Linked DNA regions of Homo sapiens. The protein of the gene in region 3 interacts with the protein of the main gene of each other region in a pairwise test. Each region holds a gene or a part of one and is shown on either strand. Other genes may lie near its edges. The genes, in order: PTGFRN, MME, CD9 and ODF4.

Region 1 (7,914 bases), on a different chromosome or scaffold from region 3:
GCTTAGGAAGGCTTCATGGAGAAAGTGAGTTTCAAGGGAAAAAGGAAATATTAATACGCAGGCAAGAGGTGAGAAGTAGAAGGGGCCAGAAGGTTTAATATAGTCTACATAAAGGAGAGCAAACAGGTTAGTTGGAACGAAGTGTCTGAGCCAGAGAAGACCAGAGGGGAGGGACACACAAGGGGCAACATCTCCTTGGAGGAAACTCATAAGGACACAGTGAGAACAGGTGGGAGCCCCAAAAATGATCATTTAGGAAAAGGATGAGCTTAAAAGGGAGGCTGGAGGAAATAATCAACCAGGAAGACACCAACTGTGTGGGAAACAATCAGGACCTGGGCTAAGACAGTAGCCGTAGAAACAGGAAGGAAAGAAAGAAGCTGGAGTCTGTGGTACGGGGAGAGCCAAGAATTGAGAGACTACGTGAATATGGAGGTCAAAAAGAGCAGCGATACCACGATTATACCCAGGTTACACCCCAGGAGGAAAGATGATCTTGTTTATCAACATATTACATTTCAGGGATCAGTACAGTGCCAGAGCAGTGTAACACAGCGAGACCTTCCCAGAGGTCAGGCTGAAGCCACACCGAGTGAGATTCTGTGACAGCAGAGTTATCAGGAGGGTCATCAATGGTTCAGAGAACTGTTAGGTGAAAAGGTACTGGCTGGTGACACCACAGAAATTCCCTGTGTAATTCATAGGAGGCATCCAGCCAGGACAGGATATGCTGGAGTACAATCAAGATTTCCCCAAGCTGTGCTTTCCCCACTTCTATTTTGTTTTTGTCAGTCTCTCTTTGCCCCCTCCCCTCTTCTCCCTTCATTATTACTCAAGGGCATTGTTTTCAAAGTTCTACCTCATCCCACCCTCATAACTGGTACCCAGGTTGTTCAGAGAACTGCACAGCTCTAGGGGGAGTTATTCACACAGACTACAAAGTGAACAGCAGCTCCCGAAGTTGTACAGTGCACCATCTGTGCAAACCTAGGCCATGGCCCTGCTTGACCCAGACACATAAAGTCAATTAATGTGTGTGGACTATAACAGCAGTGCGCCACTAACATACAACTTACAAGGGTCCCAGAGTGAAAAGTAAAGATTAAAAGCACTACCACCGGGTGTGGTGGAGCATGCCTGTAATTCCAGCACTTCAGGAGACTGAGGTGGGAGAATGACTTGAGCCCAGGAGTTTGAGGCTTCAGTGAGCTGTGGTTGTGCCATTGCACTCCAGACTGGGTGAAAGACTGAGGCTTTGTTTCAAAAATAAAAATAAAGCACTAGGATCAGGGACTATAGAAAAGATGCCATAAAACTAAGTGGAAGATCTGGAAGCTTTCTGCACATGGGCTGAAGCTGAAGCAATGTGGCTGGACGAGCTCTCTGAGGGAGTCAGTTCAGAAAATCCCTTCAAGGTGAAGGAAGAAAACACAGCAGCCAGCAAGGCTGGTTCATCAGCAGCAGGAGTCATGGGGGTTACAGCAGTGTGGGCCCCGGTGTCCCCAGCAGGGGAGTAGCTATAGAAGGCCTCCTCTGGAACCCTCTGACCATAAGTGCAGAGTAATCATTTGCCCTGTGTGCAGCTGGGACCTGAATGGCACGGACACCGCACATCATGCGCTCTGTGAAAGACTCAGAGCCGCCTTCTCTAGGGGCTTGGAAGAGAACCCCAGGCCAGGTCACAGGAATCATCTTGTCCTGGTTGACACTGACAACAAGGATCCAAGAATATCAAAACATTTAAGAGTCGGCCCTGGGGTACCATGGTGGGCACTTAATAAACATATTTCCGTGGCTGGCTAGGATCACCATGTGGATCTACGTGAAGATGGTGTCTGTGTATGGAGTGAATGGAAAATGGAGAGGGAAAAAACCCACAAAAGATTCCTTGGGTGGGGGGAGGGCGCTGGGCCAAAACCTCACGGGGCACCCAGGGTTTCCGGAGGGTGGAAGACGAGGGGATAGTAAGGGAGGGAAAGTAACAGGTAGAAAAAGTTGGAGAAGCCAGGCTTTTAGGTCTTTGTGTATAAATACGCAGCTAGGCAGCTTCAAGAAAAGCTAAAAGAAAAGACTGAGGCAGAAGATCTAGCCACGACGAAAATGACGGCAGGACTCGCCCGCCGATTTCCATTGTAACGCTCCGGGCCACCCTGTGACCTTCGTGGAAGGAAGTTGGAGGATTCTCTCGCTTCCCTGGAAAGGCAACTCCGCGCGGGTTGGGTGAAGAGCGACCCGGCCGGCGGCGGCTATGGCGGGGCATATCAAAGGCTCACATTTCCGCTCTCGAGCCGAGGACCCGGGCCGGGACCGCAGCACCTTCCGGGCCGGGAGTTCAAGGTGAGCCGGGCTCCCGGCGGCCAACAGGTAGGGAGACCTGGGGGAAAGACGGCCCCGGGCCACTCCCCCCGGCACATGTTGGGGGCGAGGCTCGGCCTGGCGGAGCGGCCACTTGCACCCCGCGCGCGGGGCCCGAGCGGATTCGCGCCAGGCTCCGGGCGGCCCCGCGGCCGCTCCCCGCCGGGCCGAACAACCCGCGCACCCCGGCCGGGTTTCCCGGGAGCAGCCCGGGCACCCTCGGCGCCCCAGGCCGCGCGCTGCAGCCGCGCCCCGCCGAGCCCTCCAGGGCCTCGCCAGTCCCCGTGTGCCCCGCTGAGCCCCGCGCACACTCACCCAACGACAGGAGCGCCAGCAGCAGCGGCCTCGAGGCCAGGCGCCCCATGCTCGCCCGGCGGGAGCGACTCTCCCCCTCCTCCTCCTTCCCCGCCGCCTCTCCTCCTCCTCCTCTTCCAGCTCCGGCTGCTCCAGAGTCGGCGCTCCTCCGCCTGGGCCGCGCGCCTGCTCCGCTCTCCTCGCGAGCCGATAAATCCCAGCGCTGGGGCGTACGTGCGCCCCTGGCTCCGCTCGCTCCCTCCCGCCTCCTTCCCTCCCTCCTCCAGCCGGCCGGGCCCGGGAGCCGGCCCCGCCGATCCGAGTGTGCAGCCCCGACCGCTTCCCGAAAGCAGAAGGGAAGAACCGCAGCGCCCGCCCGCGCCTCCCATCCGGCGCTTTGCCAGCAACAAACACAAACTTTCCCAAGCCCCTCCCCGCTCCAGGTAACGGAGGAAGAGCCGGGGCCACCCGCTTAAAGGCGAGGAGGCGTCGGAGCCCACCCTGCCATCCCCTCTGGGCCCCCACCCCACGAGAAACTTTCCTCCGACCTTTAAAAGTTGGCCTGGGAAAGACTCGTCTGGAAATCCCATCGCTTTAGCCCTATCCCGGGACACCCCGCGTTCCATCACGCTGGAGTCACCCACGCGTGTCTAGTCTATCCTCAGCCAACTCCCCGCTCGTTCGGCCTCTCGTCCTGAGCTAAACACCCCACCAACCAGCCGCTTGGCCTATGCCAAAAATTATGCAGATAGGAGCGAAGGAGCTGAAAGGACTTTTAAAGGCCACGGATTCCAACCTCTACCATACAGAGGCCTTAAGTGTTTCGGTGAGGTGCCCAAGGATTCACAGGGAAGGGGCAAAATCAGAACCCCGCTCTCCTGACTCTGCCCACTCCCCGGTGGCTAGGGTGGGCCTGTCTCCTTCCTTACCCAGCTCCCTCCCTCTCCTCGGCGCCTGTGGCACTGATTAGAACAGCACCCCACAAAGACACCCATTTAAAAAACAAACAAAACCCAAGTGTATTAATAGCTATAGTACTTCATATAGAATGTACTCTTAAGACTTAATATTTATTGCTCTAAGTGGACACCACTGATTGCCAATAAAGACTCATTTTTCCCCCTACAATAGAGTTTTGTGCTTTTGATTTGAATACAAAAGGCCCGACTTGGTTGGGAGAAATGGAGCATTCCTTGCTTGAAACTTAGCAAGCATGATTCAAACACGCAAGGAGCAGCACTGGTGCCCACTGCCCGTCACTGGGCTTTCATTCACATGCAAAACGGATCGCAGATGCTTATGCGGAAACTGCCCACACTGGGGAAGAACACTGCTTTTACTCTCATGCATCCGTCTTTCAACCAACAAATGTTTCTTATTTCCCCACTATCAAATGTGTGATTAGCCAGGTATCTTTGGAAAGAGACTTAAAAATTCATTCCTGGTGGTGCAACGTTATTGTACTTAATGCCACTGAATGGTACACTTAGAAATGTTTAAAATTGCCAGGCCTGGTAACTGGTACTTGTAATGCTAGCTACTCAGAAGGCTGAGGTTGGGGGGGCAGGGGGAGGCGGGGGGCAGGGATGGTGTTGCTTGAGGCCAGGAGTTTTTATTTGTTTTGTCTTCTTTCTTTCTTTCATTTTTGAGACAGGGTCTCAAAATGAGGATCTGTCACCCAGGCCGGAGTGCAGTGGTGCGATCAGGGATCACTGCTGCCTTGACCTCCCAGGCTCAAGCAATCCTCCCACCTCCACCTCTCAAGTAGCTGGAACCACAGATGTGTGCCACCACACTCTCGCTAATTGTTTTTATTTTTTGTAGACACTGGAGTCTCCCTATGTTGGCCAGGCGGGTCTCGAGCTCCTGGGCTCAAGCGATTCTCCCGCCTCGGCCTCCCCAAAGACTGGGATTACAGGTCTGAGCCACTGGGCTGGCACTTTTTCTTCTTTTTCTTTTTTCTTTCTTTTTTTTTTTTATTTGAGGCTAGAAGTTTGAGACCACTCGGGCAACATTGTGAGACACCGTCTCTAAAAAAAAATTTTTAAGGTTAAAATGGTAAATTTTGTGCTATGTACATTTTACACAATAATTTTTTTAAAATTTATTTCTGCCGCCAAGCCTTTCCTGGTTCTGTTCATACACACTGTAATTCCTTTCTCTTCCCCATCCCAATTCTTCCCTAGAATCTCGCAGGGAAGTTTCCCAATTTCATTCAATCAACCTTGAATTCAAGCCTAATGTTAGGCCTTGGAAGGTAGTGGAGCTTCAGAGAAATGTGAGGCCTGGCACCTTCAGAAGCTCAGATTTCAGCTCATCCTCCATCTTTCCTTTTCTTAACCACCCAGAACGCTTAATGTTTGAACCACACATTGTGGCACTTGGTCACATTCAGTTTAGCAAAATGTATACACTACCCCCATCTCTGTCTAATAATGCATGGGCCTAAGAGGCTGTCACATTTTCACCTTGTATCCCACCTTATGGCAGAGTAGATGTTTTAAAAATTCTTTTGTTTAATAAACAATGTGTGTCAGGGACTGTGCCTAGCACATGGTAGGTCCCAATGTATATTTATAGAGTGAATTAATGGCAGACACTGGGCTAGATCCTGGGGGTACAGGGATGAAGCAGACAGTTCTTGCCCTTGAGGAGTCGACATTTTGTGCATTGTGATTGCATATGCAAGGTAGAGTTGTGACACCACAAGGGAGCGGCCAGTCCAGGAGGAGGCTGTCAGAGAAAGCTTCACAGAGGGGATGACTATGCAACGAGTCTTGAAAAATTGGTAGGTCTTTAGCTGTGGAGTGTAAGGATAAGCTTACAATAGATGTTGTGTATTTAATATGATAGAGATTCTTCTCACCTCACCCACCCCCAGGTATTATTAAATTAATGGTGTATCTTACAATCATGGAAATAACAGTGGTTAACCATTGAAATGATGAGAATAAATAAAATTGTCTAGGTAAGGCAGGTAGAATGAGGACTGAAGTGGGTAGCCTGCTGGTGGCTGGCAGTTAAATGTCATGGGAGTTAACCAAAGAGCCACTTTTGTAGCAAAAAATAAGCATAAATTAATAAGTCTAGACTGTTGGTTATAACCACCACACCCTTTGCACCTTCCTGACTACCAATGGATAAAGGAAGAAACACAGCAGACTGGCACAATTTGTTAATTCATGACTCTGGAATCTGATGATGCTTTTACTATGAAAGATATTTATTTACCAGAGTGAGTAACCTTCTATACAGGTAAGGCTTTTGCCCCAACCAGTTGTTCTCCTATCTTAGTCTATAGGCTTGCCTGGGGCAGGAAGACTCACTCTCCAGCAATTCTAATTGATTCACGCCCACCCCCAAGGAGAGTACCGACATGGGTTTCTTTTCTCCAATCATAGTGCCCCCAAGGGGCACTGGTCACAGCAGTCCGACATTATGGTCTTTTGGTCACACATGTCTTTCTGCAGGTGATACCCCTAAAACCTCACAAGAGTCCTCATACTGTTACGCCAAACAAGTTTTCCCTGCTGAGATCAGGCAAAAACATCATCATGTTATTTAACTTTGTGAATGAAAATGTTAAAAGGTTCCCAGTGAATGAAATTGCTGATTGTTCTAAGACTCACCTAGACTTGGAGTTGTTGGCCCTGCCACCTCTGGCAGCCTGTACACGCACACAGTCTCCAAATGACCCTGACCCCTACCTACTTCAGCAGGGGCTCAGGGGAAGGAGTATATTCCATGGCACCGTTTCATTCCACTAATCATTTTCACTCACAGTCTTCCTTGTTCTGTGTCCAGATGTATATTTTCCCAGTTAAAGTTAAACAGAGATTACTAAACAAAAAGAAATTTAGGATTATATTATAGAATTAGAAAATGAAATTAAAAGTTAGAAAGGGAGGGGTGGGAAGAGGAGGCCTTTATTTCCCCACGAGTGAGAGTCCTGCAATACTGGTGAGATTAGTGGGGAAGCTGTAGAATGCTCATGTGACAAGTTTGAAAACAGCAAGGGACCTCATCTGTTTGGTATGGGCTAAGCAGGGTCCTGCCTGAGGGCTGGTCCTGCTCGTCACCACCCAACTATCAATTCTCCCCATCTTTTCTTCAGCCCTAAAAGACTGAAGTGGGACATGGTGGAGAAAGTGTTCTTAAATGACTTAGAACTGTTCCAGATTCCACCTCCACCAGGCCAAAAGTGCCTCCCTGGGAAGCTACCCCACATAGCATCACGCCTGCAGGAACACTGGGGTGGAGAAGTGTGAGGAGAAAATAAGGAATTGGATGGAGGTGAGCCTTTGGCAATAAAAGCTCTCCCCAAGACTGAGGCTATTTCCTATGTTACGAGCAGACAGGGCCCTTGCCCTGGAGGGGCTTATCATCTAATTTAATGCATGAAAAACCTGGAATACAGTGAAGGACGGGGAGGAGATGGAAACCACAAGAGCAAAGGAATTGAAAGAAAGGTAAATGGATAAGAGAGACACAAGCCATTATGTGTTGTATTCTGCAAATATGCCATCATCTGGGCTGAAAGTATCTCTTAAATGAATGGAGACAGCAGTCCCTTGTGCAAAAGAGGGGCTAACACATTAGAAATAGTTGCAGGCACTATGGATGTTGGAGTAAGTTCTTTACCTAAGGTCATGGCTGCCAAGTAGGATGGTGCCCAAGGGTGCCCCATCGAGCCAACATTGTGCCCTGTCTCTGACCTGCTATGCCCAGGAGAGGCCTTTATCCCCTCACAGGAAGGGAGTTTATCCCAGTCTTCACACATAAATTGGGAGGGGGAGGGAGGGAGACGAGGATGAAGATGTCCTCTTCCTTTCACCATTTCCCCACTTGCCTTTCTCACCCCACGTGAGCTGCACTTCTGTGTTCAACTAGAATATTATCTTAAGTTCTAAGCATTATATTTTAAAAACAACATTTACAAACTAAAATGCATCCAGAGTAGGGAGGGTTGCTAGCCAAAATACAGAATGCCCAGTAAAATTGGAATTTCAGATAAATAAGCAATATATTTTTAGTATAAGTATGTCCCAAATATTACACAGAGCATACTTAACACTAAAAATGTATTCATTGTTTATCTGAAACTCAAATTCAACTGGGCATTCTATATTTTTATCTGTGAAATCAGGCAACCCTCATCAGGAGAAGAGTTACCTTATATGGAAAGAGGTTCTTCTGGAAGACTTGGAGAAGACAACAGGGAGCTCTGAGGAGTTGTCTTCAGTTGTTTTTGAAGTGTTGCACTTT
Region 2 (7,883 bases), on a different chromosome or scaffold from region 3:
GATTTATTTCTAGCATTTTATGTTATACTTCCTATATGTTCTTCTCTAATACTTTTTATTTTTCTGTCCTCCTTTAGATTGACTTATGTTTAATTTTGTTTTTTCTTTCTGCAAAACTTGACCTTATGCACTCTATTTTTATCTTTTTTGTGGTTGTATTAGTACTTTTTACATACATAATTAACCTAATAAAGTCTAAAGTATATAATTAATCAATATCATTATCCTTCTTTCCAACAACATAAGTAAGGACTTCATTTTATTTATTTAGCCAGGGTCTCACTATGTTGCTCAGGCTGGTCTCAAACTTGGGCTCAAGTGATTTTCCTGCCTCAGCCTCCTGAGTAGCTGGGACTACAGGTGCACACCACCAGGCCTGATTGAGTAAAGACTTCAGAGTGCTTTAATTCTAATTAAACTCTCCCAGCTTACACACCCCGTTGTCTGGTTTTTTAGTTGATCTTTTTTATCACCATTCTTTTATTTTTGTTAATGTTTGCTTAGATTTATTTATGTTGTTACTATATTCTTTGCTTATCATTCTTTCTCACATATCAGATCTTCCATAAACTATTATTTTGCTTCCTAAATTCATTCTCAAGAAGTTCCTTTGGTTACAGTCAGTGGTGGGAAGTTTTTCAATTTTTATTTTGAACAGTCTAGCTTGGACTACTTTACCATAGATCTTTAACTTGGAAATACTCAGGCTACACAATTAGTATAAATTCTATTCCTACATCCATTTGAAGTCTGGCCAAATCATGAATTCTTACAGAAAGTTTTTGTTGTAAGTTTACCAGCCTGAGTCAGGACTGAAAAAAGCAAGTATATCTATGTTTCTTGTGGAAGAGTAGGGGTGAGGAGTCGGAGTTGGGGCTGAGTTTCATTTTTTGTTAGCCCACATTTTCACTTTGCCCTGGACTACACTTTGTATGAAGTCCCTTGGCACTTGCAAGTCCTGTTAAAGTGAAAGCTCTAGGTCGCTTAAGTCCAGTGAGGCCTCTTGAAATGGATAGATACCACCAGGACAGCTACTGTTTTCAGCACTCACATATCCTTCTTGATTTTTTTGTCGGTATTACAAGAAAGACATCTTGATCCAGACCCCAAAAGAGGGTTCTTGGACCTCTTGCAAGAAAGAATTCAGAATGAATCCATAAAGTGAAATCAAGTTTATTAGGAAAGTAAAGGAATAAAGAATGGCTACTCTATAGGCACAGCAGCAGCATAGGCGGCTTGACTGAGTAAACTTACAGTTATTTCTTCATTATATGCCAAACAAGGGGTAGATTATTCATGAGTTTTCAGGGAAAGGGGCAGAGATTTCCTGGAACTGAGGGTCCCTCCCCTTTTTAAACTATATAGGTTAACTTCTGGATGTTGCTATAGCATTTGTAAACTGTCATAGCACTGGTGGTAGTGTCTTTTAGCATGCTAATACATTAAAATTTACATATAATGAGCAGTGAGGACCACCAGCGGTCACTTTCATGGCCATCTTGGTTTTGGTAGGTTTTGGCTGGCTTCTTTACAGTATCCTGTTTCATCAGCACAGTCTTTCTGACCTATACCTTGTGCCAACCGACCTCCTACATCATCGTATGACTAAGAAGGTCTCACCTCCTGGGAATTCAGCCCAGCAGGTCTCAGCCTTATTTTACCCGGCCCCTATTCAAGATGGAGTTGCTCTGGTCCAAATGCCTCTGACAGCTCTCTTTGTTTTTGGCTTCTAAGATTTTCTTTTACTTGCCTGCTGGCTCAATGGTGCATATAAAAATGCACTATAGCATTTTTAAAGGACTTAAAAAAATTCATCAAGCATTTGTGTCACACACAGTGGTTTTTAAGGATCCATTCTGCAAACTGCTAGAACCAATGCATTCCATTCTTAATAACTTATGTATGGCCACCAGGAGGGCTACTTTCTCCTCCATTCCTATAAGTGGCCAAACTGAGTGATCTTGGACCACCTCAGTAAGCCTCAGTTGTCTAAATTTACTTACTGTAAATAGTTGGGGACTCTTTAAGATCCCTTAAAAAAATTATCTCAAACTTGCACAAACTTCTGGGAGGAGATTTAGCATTCTTGATTTAAAAACAAACAAACAAACAACAACAACAAAAACCCTAAGTTTCTAATCAACTTTAATGAAATCAAGATATTGTAAGGGAGATGTGGGTAGTCCAAGCTACTTAAGAGGCTGAGGCTGAAGGATTGCTTGAGCCCAGAGTTAGAGACCAGCCTGGGCAACACAGTCAGACCCTCATCTAAACAAAAAAAAACGAACAACAGCAACAACAACAAAAAACAGAAAGAAAAGAGAAAAAGAAAAAAATATTTGTTCTGGGAAACCAGTTACCAATCCATACTGTCGACTATCAGCTGAAAGTCAGAGTCTAAAATTAACTCTAAGTAGGCATTTTTTTTTTCTTTTGTCATACATTTTAAGTAAATCCTTTTTTTTCCTTTAAAAGAGTCCTCACCGCCAGGCATGATTGCTAACACCTGTAATTCCAGCACTTTGGGAGACCGAGGTGTGTAGATCACTTGAGGCCAGGAGTTTGAGACCAGCCTGGCCAATATGGAGAAACCCCGAAAGTAAAAGTACACACACACACACACACACACACACACACACACGCAAGCAAAATTAGCTCGGTGTGGTGGTGCGTGCCTGTATTTCCAGTTGCTCAGGAGGCTGAGGCAGGAGAATCGCTTGAACCCAGGAGGCAGAGATCACACCACTGCACTCCAGCCTGGGCGACAGCACGAGACTCTGTAGGAAAAAAAAATTCCAGTTGAGATGCTTTCCAGGGCGCTAGTCAAGCCCCGCATGCTTATTTGTGGGAGTGAAAACACCAATATTTCGGGATTGTTGTGAGGACTAAATAGTGTCTGTAAGATGCACAGAGAAAGCGTAAATAGACGTCAATAGCACTTGTTAGGTCTACACACTCCATTTTTCCTCTATATTAATCGAATTATTTAAAGATTGGTTAGCTTTTTGGGGAAATGTCTCTCCATTGTATTCCACTTATTAGGATGAACTACCTTTTCTCCTTGCTTTTCAGCTTTCTCTGCTATGAAAAAGATGGAAAATTTTTTAGCACAAGGGGACTCTTCTCAAGCAGCAAATCATTTTGATATTAAAAACAGATAATTGCAAACCCAGTTTTATTTCAGTATGAATTCCGCAGTGGAGTGTGAATATGTGTGTGTATGTGTGTGTGTGTGTGTGTGTGTGTGTGTGTGTAATTACCTGTGATTCAAAAGAGGAAAGGGATCAGTATTAAAGGTACTTGTACACTGGAAGCAAAAAAAAAAGGAAGTTTAGTTCCTCTGAGCTCCTTGGCAATTATAGCTGCTAAAGGTAGCTTTTACAAAGAAACTGCCTTTGTGCCTAAAGTATTTATTTCCTTGTTTGTATTTACCCCTTTGAGGAGGAATCGCTGTGTCTTGAGTGAAAGGGGTACGCTGCTTGCTTGCATTAAACTGTGAGGGTCCAGGCGCATTACGGCTGATTTCAGTAGGTAGAGCAGACACACTTTAGTTTATTTTTCTCTTTCTCACTCCCCACCCTCAACCTCCGATGTACACACGTTTTAAGATTCCCTGAAGTCAGGAGGTGGGAGCGGAGAGTTTCAGTTCAGATCTTGACATGAGAGTACTTCGACCAAGGAAAAGAAAGGGAAGAAAGAGGGAAGCGGGGTGGAGAAAGCAGGAGCAAGGAAGGAAAGAAGGAAACGGGGAGGGAGAGTAAGAAAAAAGAAAACGAAGGAGGGAGGGAGAGAGGACATTTAAATGAAGAAGGAAGGAAGCTTGGATTCAGGGAGGAAAGGGAGCGGGAAAGAGAGCGAAAGAAGAGCGTGAGAAGAGGCAAGCATTATAGTCTCCGGTCCACAGGGGAGAGATGGAGCCCCCTCAGGACTAGAGAATCCCGAAGAGCCCGTGTATTGTTTTCTTGAAAGCCCCGAAGCTAAGCAATTCTAAAAATGTTTAGCAAAGCCCTTTTGGGAATGGTGAGATGGGGGGTGGGGAGGATGGGACATTTTCATTGCCACCGCCCGCCCCCCGTCTCCCCGGCCCCCTCACATGAAGTGACTGGATTTGGGAGACCTAGCGGAAACCTTCAGGTCACCCAGGGAACTGCTCCTCTCTCTGGTCCTGCAGCGGCGAGGCGGGGTAGGGGGTGGGGGGGGTGGGCCGTGAGAGCGCCGAGACGCGCGGGGCGCGGAGATGTGCAAGTGGCGAAGCTTGACCGAGAGCAGGCTGGAGCAGCCGCCCAACTCCTGGCGCGGGATCTGCTGAGGGGTCACGGTGAGTCTCTGTGGGTGCGGGTCGGAGGGATGCCCAGGTGCCTCGTCGCCCCACGGCCCGGGCGGAGGCGGGTCCGGAACCTCCCCCAAGTCCGGCCTCAGCCTGGAGCCCGCGCGCCTTGGGCGGATGCACGGACTGAGAGGCGCTTGGCTGGGCTCTCAGCCCGCCACTGCCACCCGGCCCCGTGCGCTCATTGGTCGGGATGTGTCGGCTCAGCAGCCTCCAACTTCTCCCGAATCCCACTGGTGAGTCCCAGGAGAGCGAGCTGAGGGAGAAAGGTCCAAAGGGCGCGAGCGCCCAGGGCGCTGGGAGCCCGTGGGACGGGCACGGGGAGGGCAGAGCCAGCCGAGGGGAGCGGCTGCCGGGAGGTGCGCTGAGCAGGGTCCGCAGCTAAGGTCCAGCGCGATCCGAGCGCCCAGGACCCTGCGGCCGTGGAGGAGGCGTGCCCTGGGAAGGAGCCGCTACTGGGACCTGAAGAGTGAGGGGAGGGAGAGGGGCCCAGAGGGTGACCTGGAGGAGGGCTCTGGAAGTCACGTCAGGTTGGCTCTTCAGGTTCATTTCCATAGTTCCCTGCGGCCTCTGCCTTGGGGAGTTATGTTTTGTTACCGAGATCCGCGCTACCAGATTGCACCGGGGCTGATTTGGGGGCTGGGAATTTGCCATTCTGCTGTACAGACACTGATTTTTTTTTCTTCTTTTTAAAAAGCAAGGTTTGTTTTCATTTTGGTTTCTGTCGGATTTTCTCATTTGTAACTCACTTTTCTATTTTTACTTTTCTTAACCGGAAGATCTTTTCATTATCCCACCTCTTCATCTTGCTTTTAACCTGATTTCCTATTATATAATTAATGCTTAAATCTCACAAGGGTTGGTCGGTGCGGGGCTGGTGTGTCCTTTTGTAGATGAAAGTTTAAGACCTCTTAACTGGTTTCAGTCTATTTGTCTGGTTTCAAAATAAGGGTAATTGCAACCAAATATCCCTCTTTAGCTTCTCGATCAAGTCGATTCCTCCCCCATATATGATTCAAATGGCAATTTTATTAAACTGAAAACTAGTACCTGACTTGCAGCGTCAGCATTTGGAAAGTGCTTGTCGGCAAATCGACTGTATGAAGGCGTGTAGCTTCATCCCCTGCCATTTTTGTGGGTTCTAGCACTTTAAAAAATTGTCTGGTAATTTCTTGGACTTAACCCTGTGTCTTTGGTTGTAGAGCAGCACTAACCAGGGGAGTAATATGGTTGGCACTTCGTGTCCAGAACTCCGTATTTCAGGCTGGGAAACACCTAATTAATGTCTGGGAAACAAGAAGATGATTTATCCTGAGTACCTCTGTCCTCAGCTTCTGCAGACACAGTTTAAATATGGAAACTGTTTCTCCTTCTTCCTGTGCCTCAGTTTCCATAGAACAAACTGTAATTGCATAGCACAGCTTCAGGAACCTGCAGATATAAGTTAATGTTATAATGTGCAGTGAAGATGAAAACTGCTTAGCTAAGTCTAAGTCTGTAAGTCAATGAGATTTCCTTTTTAACAAATCAGTTATCCAGGTTTCCTGCTTTGACTGTCTGATATAGTAATGCTTATGCTCAACTGGTATAAGAATTGCTGCTTTACATTGCTTTGAAATTAAGCTTACACTTAAAATAGTAATTTATTCTGTTGGTAATATTGTCGAGCTGAAGTTTGCAGGTTCTTGTTATCTTAGACCTCCTAATTCTCTATTCTCGTCTGTGGCAGTGTCCACTTTTCCGTTTAAACTTTTTATTTAACACATCTTCAGTTGAAGTGAAATATTTTAAGAATACAGGTATGTTTTTGCGTACCCTGCTTTATATGGGACTATAAGCCTCAACTTGGTATTTTTTTTTTTTTTGTATTCTTTTGTTTACTTGTCCCCCTTACTCTTCTCTATGGGATTGGGTGTGGTTAAGTTGGATATTCAGGTATTTGGGGTTTAGTCATATGTTCCACAGTGAGATTCCAGATACTGTCCCCTGATGTCTTAAAGAAAAATTGTGAACCTTCCAGAATTAACTGGAAATGAACGACAAAGTTAATTAGGAGATTAAACTTGCATCATTTCTGCTTTTGCTCAATGCTTTTGAAAAAAGGCTACTAAGAGCAAAAGACTTCCTTTAAGAATTTACAGGGCATTTACAAGAGGGGGAGATGGAGGAAGACTTTGCAGGTGATTCAAAGATTATATTGTTTTGATGCAGCTTCTGTCACTGTCTTCATTTCTCTGTAACTGTTTCTGCAAACTTGGGTGCTGACCCATTAAGAGCCCAGCTGCTTCAGTACCCAGTCTCAAGGGTAAGGAGGAGAAGCCAAGGGAAAGTAACTTACAGGGAGAAAGAAATGCTTATCCACTAGCTTTACTACACCACAAGGCATGGAGTTTCCACAGAGCACCTGTAATTTAACCCTGAGGCTGCCCTGGTTCACCCCTTCGCTTTACTTTACAGGGACACTGACTGTCATTTCTAAGGAAGAACTAAGAAAAAAAAAAGTCCTTTTATACCAGTAAAACATTTCTCTACATTGTCTTCTGACATATGCGGGGGGAACAATATTCAGGAAAGGGAAATACTTTAGCAAATGTGCTTAACATTCAGGTGTTCTTTAGGACAGTCATGAAACATGGGGAGACTGGGAGAATTATTATTGTTTACCTCTCTGTAAAGTGTCCAGAGTATTATTAAATTTGTTCCCCTCTTTCCTTTGCCCAACCAATACACTATTAAAATAGGACTACAATCAATGCAATTCCATATCATAACCCCAGGGGTGGTGAGACTAAGCCAGCATGCCTTACATAACCATTAAGTAAGACATTTTAACATTCAGGTACATTACATTCCACTTTTATTTAGCAGACACGGTTTTCATTGTGTAATAAAATATTTTTATTTGATAGTCTGTCCTTGCTTATAGCCTCATGTAATCAAGGGGACAGCATGTTTAAGACTTTGTATCCAGAACTTTAAGGTCTAGCTGTGGTTCGCTTATTAATAATTCACTGGGAAGGTTAATTTCTAGTTTTCTGCTGGGTCTCCCAGACCATACTTCAAATGTAGAATATGTTTCTTCTTTCTCCTATGCCTCAGTTTCCACAAAACACACCCTTAGAGAATTGTGTGTGTTCAACAAAGATCTTTAACTATAAGAGCATTTCTGAGCCGCCACTTCATCCTGGGACCAAATTCTAAGAGCAATTTGTATTGAGCTATAAACAGCTAATCTGCTAGTTTAAGATGTTCTTTTATACAGTCATGCAGAAAAATGGAAATTGTGTGTTCTAATCCTTGGAGACTGGCTGATAAAGTGTCACTAGGCCCCTGATGAAATTTAATATTTAGGCTTATATCCCCTTAATTTTCCCCCTAAATTTCTACAGTACGCTTTTACTGCATGATGATACAGCTTTATTTTGAACAGTGACCAAATGTGTTCTTTACAAAGAATATTGACGAGTTGTGTAGTCTTGAACACGTTGCCTGACTTCTCTGTGCCCCAGTTTCCTAATTCTTTATTCTATTCTGTGGCAGTGTCCACTTTTTGGTT
Region 3 (7,021 bases):
ACCAGATCTGTGACTCTGGGGAAGCCACTTAACCTCTCTGTGCAACAGTTTTCTATCTGTAAAACAGGAGTAGCAATAATGCCCACTTCCAGGATTGCTGTGAGGATTAAGTGATATAATCCACATGTGCACAACAAATGCTAGCTGTTGTTAATCTCAATTATACCAAGCATGAGTAACAATCATTAATAATCACCATGGTGAATTTTAACCTGCTGCTGTATCCCTACTGTCCTTTCACTGGGACCAGAGAGATATCCTTGATGTAGGGGCTGAAAACACGCACGCGAGAGAGAAAGTCTGTGATGTTTCCCCACAATACACAGCAGGACACTCGATGAGAACCCTCGGCAGGTGACACGCTGACTTCACTGTCCCACATCTGCACCCCGAGCAGGGGTGAGACTTTGCAGGCAACAAACCATGCAGTCTGCCCGCAGCTGAGGCTCACGGGCAGCACAGAGCAGAATGCACACAGAGAGCGTTTGTTCCTCCCCCTTCTCCCCCACATCCGTCGTGAGGTCAAGTCACGTGGGGTTACTGGCAAACCCCATGTTGCAAGAATATGGGTATTGTTCTTGTGCATGCCTGGCCCACACTGGGCAAGGGGACAAATGTAGCTTGTCCTCAAGTCAGGTCGCATCTTCCTGGGCAGTCAAACGCTGTTGAGGCCACAAGCTGGGCTTGGGGAGGCTGTGCAGCCCCATGCATGGAGCACTGGGTAAGAGGGCAGCCTCCTTTGGTTCTCTCACATGGGGACAGTAGAAAGGCCCCAGTTTCTCCCCATCTAATGGGGGCAAGTCAAGGAAGGATGAGGTCACTCCTTTGAGCTCCATAGCAGGGGCTGAATAAACAGGAGGTATTAAGAGATCAAAAGGATTTACAAACACATGAAATACCGTGGAGTGGGAACGAACAGGCAGACATGTTTTCTCTAAGTCCAGATCCCAGTTCTTGAACCTGGCGGTCCTGGCAGAGGCCAAGGGAATTGGATTAGCTGCAAGTGAGCTACTAAAGAGAAAGTATTTCCCACGCAGAGAAAGAGAACATGCTCCTAATGGGGCTTGTGGTTAATATTAAATATTCATGCTAGGGCTCAGCAGAGGAAGATTTTAGGATCACGGGTTTTGTGGGCTTTAAATCTTGCGTGGATGGCTACGGATCTGCAGTGCCTAGCTTTAGCCCTCTCTAGTCACGGGAAAAGGGAAGCGATCCCCTGGCAGCTGTGTTCGGGGACTCAGCAGCAGCCGGCAAGCTACAGGACAGCTCATCTGGAAGCAGGCCCCATGGAAGTCACGGAACCACTGCAGGGCTCGGGCTGGTTTTTACAAGGGCTATTCAGTGCTTCCCTTTGGAGAAGCTACTCATCGCTTACACCCCAAGCTTGTTAGCCAAGGCTGCTGTTGATAAATGACAAAGTGTTCCCCTTTATAAAACAAGCGAATGTTAGCTTGCTGTCTGACTCATGGAAAAAGTTATCCATCACAGAGCCTTCTCTAGGATTACGGTATTAATTTGCTTAAGGGTTGTTTATTCTGCTTTTTTCAGGCTGACATTACAGGCCCAGAAAAAAAAAAAAAAAAGAAAGGCTGGTGTAGCAGCAGTAGCATATGCCAGCGTGTCCTTTACACAAGAAATGGAACAGTGTTTTTCACTGTTCACCAGGGCTCTCAGTTTAGCCCAGGGAGAGGACACAGCAGGCTCCCGTCCCTACACCAGCTCTGTCCTGCAAACAGCACTCACCACGCCCGTTTGTGTGAAGGAGAACAAAATCCGGTAGGGCCTCTGGCCTGCAATAAAAGTTTATTATATCCAAATAACTCCACCAGGTGTTCAAAGGAGCCCTACCTCTGCCCCGACTGGTTTCGTCTTGGTTCCCGCCCTCCCGAGTTCACGGGAATAAGTGCCACAATGGAATTCCATTTGCCACACGCTGTACTTCTTTGCCCCAGAGGGGAGTGGGTGTGTAAGCTGTGCTGTGGTTGTGTAAGCTGTGCTGGTTTCAGGAGGGAGAAAAATGAAGCCCAGAGCAATAAAATGAACTGCCCCAGGTCACAAGCCAGGATGGGGATGCCAGCTTACTAAGGCCAAGTGTCGCGTGTCCTGAAAATCACCAGGCACCTCATCATGGATAGGGGGCTGGCCGAGGAAGGGGGGGCATTCACGGCCTCTGGCTGGAGCCCCCCTAGATGCCCTCATTCAGCAGCCATGGTTCTGGAGGGACACCAGGGAGCTGGGAAAGGCTGCTGGCCTAGGACCAAGAAAATGAAGTTCCCCAACAAGTTTGCAGCCTGGGATTAGGGATCTTGCTGACGGGCTGAATCTCCAGGCCTGGATTGGAGAGAAGGCCCATATAAGGCTGTCAGCTGCTCTGGACTTACCATAGACTGTTCTGAATGTTGGAAAGGTTTTCACTTGCTTTTCTGCCTGGTTATATACTCTTTCTCTACTTGGTAAGCTGTGGCCCCACTGGAGAAAAGACACCCCTGGGCTGTTCAGGTTTCCTGAAAAGTCAGCTGCATGGTCAGGCTGGCCTGTGGGTTGCTCTGCAGACAGTTGGTGGCCCAGTGCAAGGGGCGGTCACCCCATGACTATTCCTTGGAAAAGTAGCCAGGGTGTGGCTGGCACTCCAAGCTCATCTGCTAGGAGAAGGGCTCTGGGCCAGTACAGAAGGCTGGTCTCACAGCCTCGTGGGGAAGGGGACACAGAGCGACGCCTCCTTGGCCCTTTGCCCATGGACGACAATTATTATTTCCTAAAGCGTTCAGTGACGTTCAGGGCATAGCTCAGACCTAAGCAGTGCTCAGAGTGCTGTGCTGCTGTTTTTTTTTTTTTTTTTTTTTTTGAGATGGAGTCCCGCTCTGTCTCCCAGGCTGGAGACAGAGCCTCAGTGGTGTGATCTCAGCTCTCTGCAACCTCTGCCTCCCAGGTTCAAGAGATTCTTGTGCCTCAGCCTCCCGAGTAGCTGGGATTATAGGTGCACGCCACTACGCCCAGCTAATTTTTGTATTTTTAGTAGAAGTGGGGTTTTGCCATGTTGGCCAGGCTGGTGTCGAACTCCTGACCTCGGGTGATCTGCCTGCCTCGGCCTCCCAAAGTGCTAGAGGCTGAGGCGGACGGATCACCTGAGATCAGGGCTGATCACTGTGCCCAGACACAGTGCTGCTGTTCTAACTTTACCGTGCATCATCCCCCTTGCCGGCGCTTCTGCAGGCAGAACGAAGTCTTCAAAGCTCCGCTCTCTTCCCCGAATGGGGTGTCGCTGCAAAGGATCTGTATTTCCCTGGCAGAGCTAAGTGGACAGTGGCCCTTAGACCCCAACTAGGGGATCTGTGTCTCTTTGGGGTTGTGCCTTCAAATCACCCTCCTGGTCACTTCAGGTAGGACCACCGGCCACCAGCAGGGCCCTGCAATGACCTGCAGGATCTGAATCCTGTGAGGTTCCCAGAGGTGAGCCCCAGCTCCTCTAATGGCACTCACCATTCTCCTGCCACCCTGCAGCTTTCCCACCTGTCAGCTGCTGGCTGGGCCACCGACGCAGGGGTTTCTCTCCCTGACTGCAATTTGGGTGAAGTAAAAGGGCCAAGACAGCGCCACCCCATCCCTGCCAATGGGGCACATTCAGCCAGTACAGACCTCTTCCATTCCTACAGAGGGAGACCCCACAACCTGGCAATGACAACCCGAGAAGCAGCTCTTTTAGGCCTGGGTTCAAAACCTGGCCCTGCCTCTTGAGGGAATATAAGCTTAGACAAGTTATTTCAGCTCTCTAGGCCTCGGTTTCTGCACTTGTGAGATGAGAATCACTCCACACTCCTCGTAGAGCTAAGGGGATTAAATTATATAATACACACAAGACAATGAATGACACACAAAGAAGGGGGCTCAAAAATGTTAGTGTCTTCCAGCCGGGCGAGGTGGCTCACGCCTGTCATCCCATCACTTCGGGAAGCCAAGACGGGAGGATCACCTGAGGTCGGGAGTTGGAGACGAGCCTGACCAACATGGAGAAACCCCGTCTGTACTAAAAATACAAAATCAGCTGGGCATGGTGGCACATGCCTGTAATCCCAGCTACTCAGGAGGCTGAGGCAGGAGAATCGCTTGAACCTGGGAGGCAGAGGTTGCGGTGAGCCGAGATTGTGTCATTGCACTCCAGCCTGGGCAACAAGATTGAAACTTCGTCTCAAAAAAAAAATAAAAAAAATAAAAAATAAAAATGTTAGTGTCTTCCTCCCAGTTCCATCCTCTTACCCATGAGATTCTTAACTCCCACATCTAAAAATATAAAGAATCAGCCATAGAGGCTTTGGGTAACAGAAAAGAAAAAGTGGGTTGTTAGAAGCAGCCAGGACAAGGGAGGACTGAGTCTCTCTTTGGAGACACACGCGCCGGCCACAGGGCTTTTGCTTAGGAAAGCAGGCCTGACTGTGCCTGCTCCTGCCGGCAGACCTGCTCCCCCAGCACAGGGCTCCCTTCTGGAACACGGCGTGGAGTGTGGAGAGTCTTCCCCAGCACCCGCACCCGGCTCCTCCCTCCTGCTCTGCAGGACAGCATTCTAAGCCTGTCACAGACTCCCAAAAAATGGTCTGTTGCCAAAACAAGTCAGGGCGCTATAGAAACCTGTTCCCCAAAAACTCTGTGTGTATGTGTAGTTTTTTTTCTAAACATACATTGTGCTTTCTCTCACTTTCTTTCCGATAATAGAGAGACACACCCCAAAAAACCCCAGCTAACAATAAAAAGCAGTAAACCCAGCAAAACTATCCACAGGGCTCAAATGTTACGCAACCAAAGGAGCTGTTTTTAAAGACTCTCCCTACCCAGTTCAAGAGGTGGGAAAGGGAAGGTCTACGTGGCTGGCCAGCCTTGCTTCTCCCTGAGGGACTGGGAGATAACTGTTTTCTCCCTCGTTTGTAAAAATAACTTTTTTGGTGGGTGGGAAGGAAGTGACCAAACTTACATTTTGAGCCTGACAACATGTCAGCGTCATCCTAAAAATAGGAGGTTTCCTTTGTTCCTCACAAATGAAAAGTTTCCTACCTCCAAGCCAGGCAGAGTACAGCCGCAGAGTCTGAATTCACGCAGACGCGGGCAACTGCACTTGGCAGGCACCAGGCTCCCCCTCCTCTGAAGGGAGCTTTGACGTGGTGATACGGCAACGAGAGGGATAGAATGGTCTAGCAAGGCTGCCAAGAAGCCTGAGTGTAGAAAGAAACCTGCCAAGTCTGTTCATGTTCAGAGGATCCCAGGCAGGTTTAAACTGGAAGCCTCTCTCCCAAAGCAAAAGTCGTGTCAAATACAAACAAATAAAACTAAACACTACAGCATTTACCCCAGTACCAGGGGTCCAAAGGACTGGGCAGAGTCCATTCTAGTCTCTCCTATTGTTGCTGTGTTTTCCAGGAGGCTGATGTTTTTCCCAGTCTCAGAGTCCCTATCTGAACAGTGAAGAGGAAAGCTGTCTATATCTTCTTCCAGCACTGCAGATCCCCAGGACAAAGCTTTTTGAATTAAGGAAATGATGCAGGATAAGAAGACAATCAGGAGAGAGCATCAGAGATGAGAACAGAGGTTCGTAAACCCTCAAGAATGAGTACAACTTTGGCAGAGGCTACATCACATCAGAGAACCATCAACATGCCTGACTTGGCCATCAGGAAAAGAAACCACATCAGTTAAACGCAAATTCCCAGGCACAACGACACACACAAAAACTGCACAACTTGAAAGGGACACGACTGGCCAGCGTGGCTAGAGCAAAAGTCTTTCCCAAGCCCAAGTCCCTGGGTCAACATGGGGCCTCCAAAGTTGCAGGAACTTTGTTGGAGCCAGGGTCTGAATTCACTGAGCCTTCCCCGTCCCTCACCTGTGTAGAAGCTGGAATTATTATTATTAGTTTCTTGCTCGAAGATGCTCTTGGTCTGAGAGTCGAATCGGAGCCATAGTCCAATGGCAAGGACAGCAATCCCGGCAAGCTGCAAGACATACAGGACATCAGCATTAATTCTGGCTGCCAGCAACAACACAGTCCCCACGCGCTTAAGGGTGAGACTTGCAAAGGACTTTGTGACCACCCTTGGTCTCTGCCCCTCATATACGCCTGGTAGTTGTAGATGCCATTACGGGGTGTGTTTGATTCATGCAGGTACTAAAAATACCAGCAAGCGAGGAATAAACAGTGACCTACCTGCCGCCCATTGGCTGAAGGGGTATTTTATAGGCAACAGAACACTATACAGCAGTGAAAACGAGTAACTCTAGCTACACGCAACACCATGAGTGCATCTCACAATGCTAAACCAAGAAGCCAGAGCCACAGGCACACACACAATATGATTCCATGTAGTTAAAAACGCTATGCTGTTTAGGGATGCACACAGAGCTAGACGCTTACATGTGCCTATAAATGATAAAGGAAAAGCATTGTTATCAGGTGAGTGGTGATGTTTAGGTGGAGGAGGAAATTATGCTCAGGGAGGTGCCATGTGGCTGGGGGTGTCGTATTCTAACTGTTGACTTGGGTGATGGTTACACAGTTCCGGACACACATGCACCAGGGAGGGCAGCTGCAATGTCCCTGGAGACCTGCTGCTCAGTAAATGACATGCCAGGGCCTCCCCTCGCTGGCACTGCTGAACTAGATGCTGTGCAGGAGGCCTCCTGCCAAGTCCCCCCAGTGCCAGCTGAGCTCCCTCGTCGTCACCCGTACCAGGGCTTGCCGGGGGAGTGACTCACAGGCCTCCAGTGTGGTAGCCGGCTGGACGCAGGAGTGGGTGGGCCCAGGTTTTGCTGGTCCACCCTCCTCAACAGAGGCACTCTTATGTCAGAGCCCGCTCATCAGGGACCTTGGTTCTCGGCTCCAGGAGCTATTGATAGCCCATGGTGTGGACAGGCCTCTCTTTCCTTCCTCCTTTCCTCCTCTCCTTTCCCTTACGATATGGCAGTGAGTGTGGGCATGTTGGGTGGACAGCAGATGTGGCAATAGTGGGAAGGGCCACCCAGACCTCCGCCTGCAGCA
Region 4 (6,923 bases), on a different chromosome or scaffold from region 3:
ATCCCAGCACTTTGGGAGGCCGAGGCGGGTGAATCACGAGGTCAGGAGTTTGAGACCCACCTGGCCAACGTGGTGAAAGCCCGTCTCTACTAAAAATACAAAAAATTAGCTGGGCGTGGTGGCGGGCACCTGTAATCCCAGCTACTTGGGAGGCTGAGGCAGGACAATTGCTTGAACCGGTGGGGGCACAGGTTGCAGTGAGCTGAGATCACACCACTGCACTCCAGCCTGGGGGACAGAGTGAGACTCCGTCTCAAAAAAAAAAAAAAAAAAAAAGAAACTCCAGGAAAAACTTAAAAACTAAAGAGGATTCGAGGGAGGAAGCCCAATCCTGACGACACTGGCTCTGTGTAAATGACATTCCCAGCAGGCCCACCACCCCCTCTCCCAGTGTTCTCCCCTCCTTCTCCCATCTTCAAGATTCTGTCTTCTGGCTGGGTGTGGTGGCTCATGCCTGTAATCCCAGCACTTTGGGAGGCCGAGGCGGGCAGATCACGAGGTCAGGAGATCGAGACCATCCTAGCTAACACGGTGAAACCCCATCTCTACTAAAAATACAAAAAATTAGCCAGGCGTGGTGGTGGGCACCTGTAGTCCCAGCTACTCGGGAGGCTGAGGCAGGAGAATGGCATGAACCCGGGAGGCGGAGCTTGCACCACTGCACTCCAGCCTGGACGACAGAGTGAGACCCTGTCTCAAAAAAAAAAAAAAAAAAGATTCTGTCTTCTGACCCAGTGCCCCAACTGTAGCTGCTTGTTCTAAGGATGACACTCGTCCCTGGCAGGGCCAGAGAATGCTTGGACTTGGGACTGAGAGGTCTCCCCTCCAGCAGCTGGAGGGGTCTGATACACAGCTTGGAGTGTGAGGGCCATGTTTCCCACCATGTGGACCAGAGCAGAGGAAGAGGCTGGTCTGCAGAGACAGAGGAAGACGCCCAGGGAGGGGCAGAGACCACAGCCAGAAGAAGCGCCCTCACAGGCTTTGAATTTCAACTTTCAACCATTCCTGAGGTCCCACTGCACAGGTGACATCAGGATTCATAGTTCACTCTCCTTTTGCTTACAAGGAGAGTTAATTTGGAGAGTTAATCTGTTCCATGATTTGCAGATGCCACTGACTGGCAAGGATGCTTGCCAGGAATTATCTTCTGCATTTTTGCTCTTTCCCTGTTTGCTAGTGAAAGACTGTAAAAACAATTAAAATGATAATTTAACAACATAATTACCAGTTGCTGGGAATTTACTATGAACTAGTGAGTGCTTTTTGATCATTATCTCATTCAGCACTCTTACCAAGTCTATGAGAAAAATATTGTTCCTGTGTTACAGATGAGTAAACTGAGGCATAAGGAAGCTATATGACATCCAGGTTCACAGGGCTATTAAGAGGAAGACCCGGCTGCATGTGGTGGCACACACCTGTAATCCCAAGACTTTGGGAGGCTGAGACAGGTGGATCACCTGAGGTCAGGAGTTTGAGACCGGCCTGACTGACATGGTGAAATCCTGTCTCTACAAAATACAAAACATTAGCTGGGCGTGGTGGCTCATTCCTGTAATCCCAGCTACTTGGGAGGCTGAGGCAGGAGAATTGCTTGAACCCAGGAGGCGGAAGTTGCAGTTAGCTGACCAAGATGGCGCCATTGCACTCTAGCCTGGGCAACAAGAGTGAAATCCCATCTCAAAAAAAAAAAAAAAAAAAGGCGGGGAAGACCCATTTTTCATACCTTTGCCTGTTGGACCCCAAAGCCTATGTTCTTTTTTTTTAGACAGAGACTCCTTCTGGCCTGAGTGATGAAGGAAGACTGTCTCAATAAATAAATACATAAATAAATAAAATTATAACAATCTCAGAAGGCATGACACCTCTAGGACCCATTCTCATCCTACATCCTCCTCTTTCTGGTGCTGAGAAAAAAAAGAAAGGAAAAAGAAAAGTCAAAAGAAGAGGGAAGGAACTGGTGGTGATTGACTAGCAGTGAGTAGAGCTGGGAGGGAGGTGAAGGGTTGGGGAAAGCAATGGGAAGCTCGATGACATCTTTGCAAGACATGTCCAAAGAACAATGGAGGGAGGATCTTTTCCTGGGGATAAGCTCCTGCTCCCTCCCCCTGCTCCATCAGTGAGCATTTGGGGTTGGGGTTAGGGCAGAGGAACTAGGAAGAGAAAAGGGGACTGTCCTAGTCCATTTTGTGTTGCTATAACAGAATACCTGAGGGTGAATAATTTATAAAGAAAAAAGGGCTATTTGGCTCACAATTCTGATGGCCAGAAAGCTCAAGATTGGGCATCTGTTGAGGACGTCAGGCTGCTTTCACTTATGGTGGAGGCAAGGGGGAGCTGGCTTGTGCAGAGATCACAAGGTAAGGGAGGAGCTGAAACTGTGCCCCAAACAGTTAAATAAACCAGTGATTAACAGACATTTTCGAGTTTACAGGATGGCAGCTAAGAAACAGCTTGCTGAAATGCTGAAAAATCCCTTTGCTTATAACAGGACTGGCTGAAATCAGTGGGAACCCGTATGGCTGACAGCAATCCGCACAGAACGAGCTTGCTGATGTCACAGCCTGAATTTCCACCTGCTGTTTCATACTAACGCCACCAAATTTGCACATGCAACCCACGAAGAACCTTGGAGATAACCAGACATGATTAAGGACTTTCTAGACTTCTCCTTTCTTTCCACCAATCACCCGCTAATCCCAGAATCCTCCCCCTAAACCTTTTCTAATAAAAGTACTGCCTTAAGACCAGCAAAGAGAGACAGATTTGAGCTGGATTCCCGTATCCTCGTGGGTCAGCTCACAATAAAGCTTTCCTTTTCTCAAAACCTAGTGCCCTAGTATTGGAGTATTGGCTTCTATGCACATCTGGCAGCGAGCACTTTTGCTTGGTAACAGCGCCAGGTTCTTTTTAACAACCAGCTATTGCGGGGAGCTAATGGAGTGAGGTCTCAGGGAAGGCGTTAATCCAATCACAAGGCATCTGCCCCCATGACCCAAACACCACCCACTAGGCCCTCTCACCTCCCATCACCACCACACTGGGGAGCAAATTTCAGCATGAGGTTTGGTGAAGACAAATTAACCATATGCAGACCACAGGAGGGCCTCTCACATACCATTGCTCATATGTAAAGGGAGGCAGAAGCTGGAGGGAGGTGTCAGATCCACAGTTCTGAGCTGTGGCCTGAGAAACAGGATTTCCGGAAAGAGTTAGAGCTGGAGCCACAGGCCAGGCAAGGTGGCTCACACCTGTAATCCCAGTGCTTTGGGAGGCCAAGTGGGGAGGATCTCATGAGGCCAGGAGTTTTTTTTTTTTTTTTTTGAGGCTGAGTTTCACTCTTGTTGCCCAGGCTGGAGTGCAATGGTGCGATCTCGGCTCACCGCAACCTCCGCCTCCCAGGTTCAAGCAATTCTCCTGCCTCAGCCTCCTGAGTAGCTGGGACTACAGGCATGTGCTACCACGCCCAGCTAATTTTGTATTTTTAGTAGAGATGGGGTTTCTCCATGTTGGTCAAGATGGTCTCGAACTCCCGACCTCAGGTGATCCACCCACCTCGGCCTCCCAAAGTGCAGTGATTACAGGCGTGAGCCACCGTGCCTGGCAGAGGCCAGGAGTTTGAGACCAGGCTGGGTAACATATCAAGACCCCATCTCTACAAACAATTGAAAAATTAGCCAGGCATGCTGGCACAATCCTGTAATCCCAGCTACTCAGGAGGCTGAGGTGGGAGGATCACTTGAACCCAGGAGTTCAAGGTTGCAGTGAGCCAAGGTTGTGCCACTGCATCCCAGCCTGGGCAATAGAGGGAGACCCTGTCTCTCTCTCTAAAAAAAAAAAAAAAAAAAAAAAAAATTGCTGAAGACTTGGCTTCCCTCCCCCATCTCACTGTGCCCCAGGAAAATTCCGTGGCAGTTAGGGGACCTGGCCTGCTGAATGGGTTGGGGCCTTCTCTTGGATCAAGAGTCTCTTATTTGATCGAGGTCTGTTATTAGACTTCCTCATTCTTTCTCAGACCTCAGGCTGCATGGTGGCAGCTGATGAAAATATCCAAAAGATGAGAAGAGACAATTGAGTCTGGTGAGGGAAAGGGGAGACAGAGGGTGAAGTGGTGCTCAAGATGGATGCAGAGTACTCTGGGAATGAGTTCCCCAGGTCAGAAGGAGAAAGAGACCAACATCAGAGACCTGGAAAGGAAAGGAAGAGTGGGGAGGCAGGATGGGGCACAGGTGAGCTGGGACAAGATGGGAGACTGCTGTCCTCCACCCTCTCCCTCAGTAGTAACAGGTCCTTGGGCCAGCGCCAGAACTCTCCGCTGCCCTTTCAATGGAGAATCACACACAGCTTCCGCTGGATGGCCCAGGTGTTGGCCTCTGAGCTCAGCCTGGTTGCCTTTATCCTACTATTGGTCGTGGCCTTCTCCAAGAAATGGCTGGACCTCTCTAGGAGCCTCTTCTACCAGCGCTGGCCCGTGGATGTCAGCAACAGAATCCACACATCAGCCCACGTTATGTCCATGGGGCTCCTGCACTTTTACAAATCCAGGAGCTGTTCTGACTTAGAGAATGGGAAAGGTGAGCCCCTCCACCCCCCATCCCAGCCCAGGCCGCCAGCCTGTCTTGGCCTCTGTATCTGCACCCTGGATGTATTCTTGTTCCCTCTTTCTGGTCATCTTTACTTTTTGGCCTGCAAGATGGTTCCACTGGCACTGAGACCTCCGATGATCGTTTCTCATCCTGTAGCCTGGCTAAATAGATTTGATTGGTGCAATGGAAAATGTCACTGCTTTTGATAAAACCCAGAGCCAAATCTGTGCTTCTAAGAATGCTGTGAGAGAGTTGGGCATGGTGCTGCACACCTGTAGTCTCAGCTATCCAGGAGGCTGAGGTGGGAGGATTGCTTGGGCCCAAGAATTTGAGTCCAGCCTGGGCAATTTAGTGAGACTCCTGTCTCAAAAAAAAAAAAAAAAAAATCAGGCTGGGCACTGCGTCTCACACCTGTAATCCCAGCACTTTGGGAGGCCAAAGCAGGCAGATCACCTAAGGTTGGGAGATCGAGACCATCCTGGCTAACATAGTGAAACCCCGTCTCTACTAAAAATACAAAAAATTAGCCAGGCGTGGTGGCACATGCCCGTAATCCCAGCTACTCTGGAGACTGAGGCAGGAGAATTGCTTGAACCCGGGAGGTGGAGGTTGCGGTGAGCCGAGACCGCACCATTGCACTCCAGCCTGGGCAACAAGAGTAAAACTCTGTCTCAAAAAAAAAAAAAAGTTACGAGGGGCATGGACTCAGCACAAGAGAATCATTCATTAATCGCCTAATTTACCAGGGACAAGAGCCCCAGTGAGATGGGGGTTTCCTTAGTCTTGTGTACCCAGAGCTTTGAGAGGACTCCTTGCAATGTCCCCTCTCAGGCCCTGATCCCACACATTCTCCTTTCCTTCTGCCTCAGGCCTTGCTTTTCTGGATCATTTTCCTTTTTCCACATCTGGCTTCTGTGTTCCTTCTTTCCCTGAATTCTTGCAGCTGCTTCATTCCTCATCCTTGTTTTTTTCTGTTTGTTTCGCTGATTTTTTTAGAGACAAGGTCTCACTCTGTCACCCAGGCTGGAGTACAGTGGTGCAATCATAGCTCACTGCAGCCTCGAACTTCCAGGCTCAAGGGATCCTCCTGCTTTAACTTCCGGAGAAGCTCAGACTACAGGCCGTGGCCACCACACCTGGTTCTTATTGTTGTTAGTCTCTGGTTATGCTGTTCCCTCACCCCTCAGGAATTTGGAGTTCTTTCCCTGCTCCTGGGGAAAACCAGAGCTTTTGACCCTTATTTCCATTTTTTCACTCTCCTTAGCATGAAAAAAATCACACAGCTATTATTTTCTGAAAGTATTATGTCCTTATCATATGAATATGAAAATATTCATATAATGAATTATGAAAGCATTATGAAAATATTATGTCCTTATTATAATAAATTTGGGGAAACAAAAGCTATCCTTTATTGTACACTTACTCCATTTGTTCAATTTAGTCCTTAGTCAATCCTAAGGGATAGGGATAATTATCCCTATTTTAGAGATGAGAAAATTGGGACTCAGAGAGATTAAGTACCTTGCTCAGGGTCATAAAGCTATTTAGATTGAACCAAATGACATGCTAATATTTGACTGCTTTTCACCTACAAAAGGAGAATTTCACATGGATCAACCTAATAATGGCAGGGTTGGAATTGCAACTCAGGTGTGCCTGGCTCTAAAACTCACATAGGCGCCTTGCTCTACGGAGTTACTCAAAGACAGCCAGGCTTTTTATTTTTATTTATTTATTTATTTGAGACAGAGTCTTGCTTTGTTGCCCAGGCTGGAATGCAGTTGCGGTCTCAGGTCACTGCAACCTCTGCCTCCCGGTTTCAAGCGATTATCCTGCCTCAGCCTCCCAAGTAGATGGGATTACAGGCGCCCACCACCATGCCCAGCTAATTTTTGTATTTTTAGTAGAGACGGAGTTTCACCATGTTGGCCAGGCTGGTTTTGAACTCCTGACCTCAGATGATCCGCCTGCCTCGGCCTCCCAAAGTGCCTCGGCTCACGGATTACAGGCGTGAGCCACCGCATCCGGCCAAACATCACTGATTTTTAAAATTTATTTAATTAGGATTAGGTGTGTATAAACAGTGAAAATTCAAAGAATACAAAAGATTGTATACTGAAGTGAGTCTGTTATCTCTTAGTATCCAGTCTCCCTCCCTAGTTTCTCCTGTTTCTTTCCAGAGACACTCTATTCAGAGACAAGCATCTATTTTTATTTTTATTTTGAGACAGTGTCTCACTCCGTCACCCAGGATGGACTGCAGTGGTGTGATTGTAGTTTATTGCACTGCAGCCTCAAACTGCTGGGCCCAAGTGATCCTCCCACCTTGAAGCT

What was found.
Region 1: the proteins of CD9 (region 3) and PTGFRN interact in binary tests that used the Homo sapiens proteins (3 or more experiments, as listed by UniProt).
Region 2: the proteins of CD9 (region 3) and MME interact in binary tests that used the Homo sapiens proteins (3 or more experiments, as listed by UniProt).
Region 4: the proteins of CD9 (region 3) and ODF4 interact in binary tests that used the Homo sapiens proteins (3 or more experiments, as listed by UniProt).

What each region holds. Positions count from the first base shown.
Region 1 is NC_000001.11:116,905,009-116,912,922, reverse strand, and holds the start of PTGFRN (prostaglandin F2 receptor negative regulator precursor), read right to left. Parts: upstream 3,008-7,914; 5' UTR 2,720-3,007; coding exon 2,671-2,719; intron 1-2,670. UniProt on the Homo sapiens protein: Inhibits the binding of prostaglandin F2-alpha (PGF2-alpha) to its specific FP receptor, by decreasing the receptor number rather than the affinity constant. Functional coupling with the prostaglandin F2-alpha receptor seems to occur.
Region 2 is NC_000003.12:155,075,439-155,083,321, forward strand, and holds the start of MME (neprilysin), read left to right. Parts: upstream 1-4,880; 5' UTR 4,881-5,028; exon of another isoform or gene 5,029-7,883. UniProt on the Homo sapiens protein: Thermolysin-like specificity, but is almost confined on acting on polypeptides of up to 30 amino acids. Biologically important in the destruction of opioid peptides such as Met- and Leu-enkephalins by cleavage of a Gly-Phe bond.
Region 3 is NC_000012.12:6,224,383-6,231,403, reverse strand, and holds part of CD9 (CD9 antigen), read right to left. Parts: intron 5,979-7,021; coding exon 5,870-5,978; intron 5,266-5,869; exon of another isoform or gene 5,044-5,265; intron 1-5,043. UniProt on the Homo sapiens protein: Integral membrane protein associated with integrins, which regulates different processes, such as sperm-egg fusion, platelet activation and aggregation, and cell adhesion.
Region 4 is NC_000017.11:8,335,932-8,342,854, forward strand, and holds the start of ODF4 (outer dense fiber protein 4), read left to right. Parts: upstream 1-3,908; 5' UTR 3,909-4,120; coding exon 4,121-4,574; intron 4,575-6,923. UniProt on the Homo sapiens protein: Component of the outer dense fibers (ODF) of spermatozoa which could be involved in sperm tail structure, sperm movement and general organization of cellular cytoskeleton.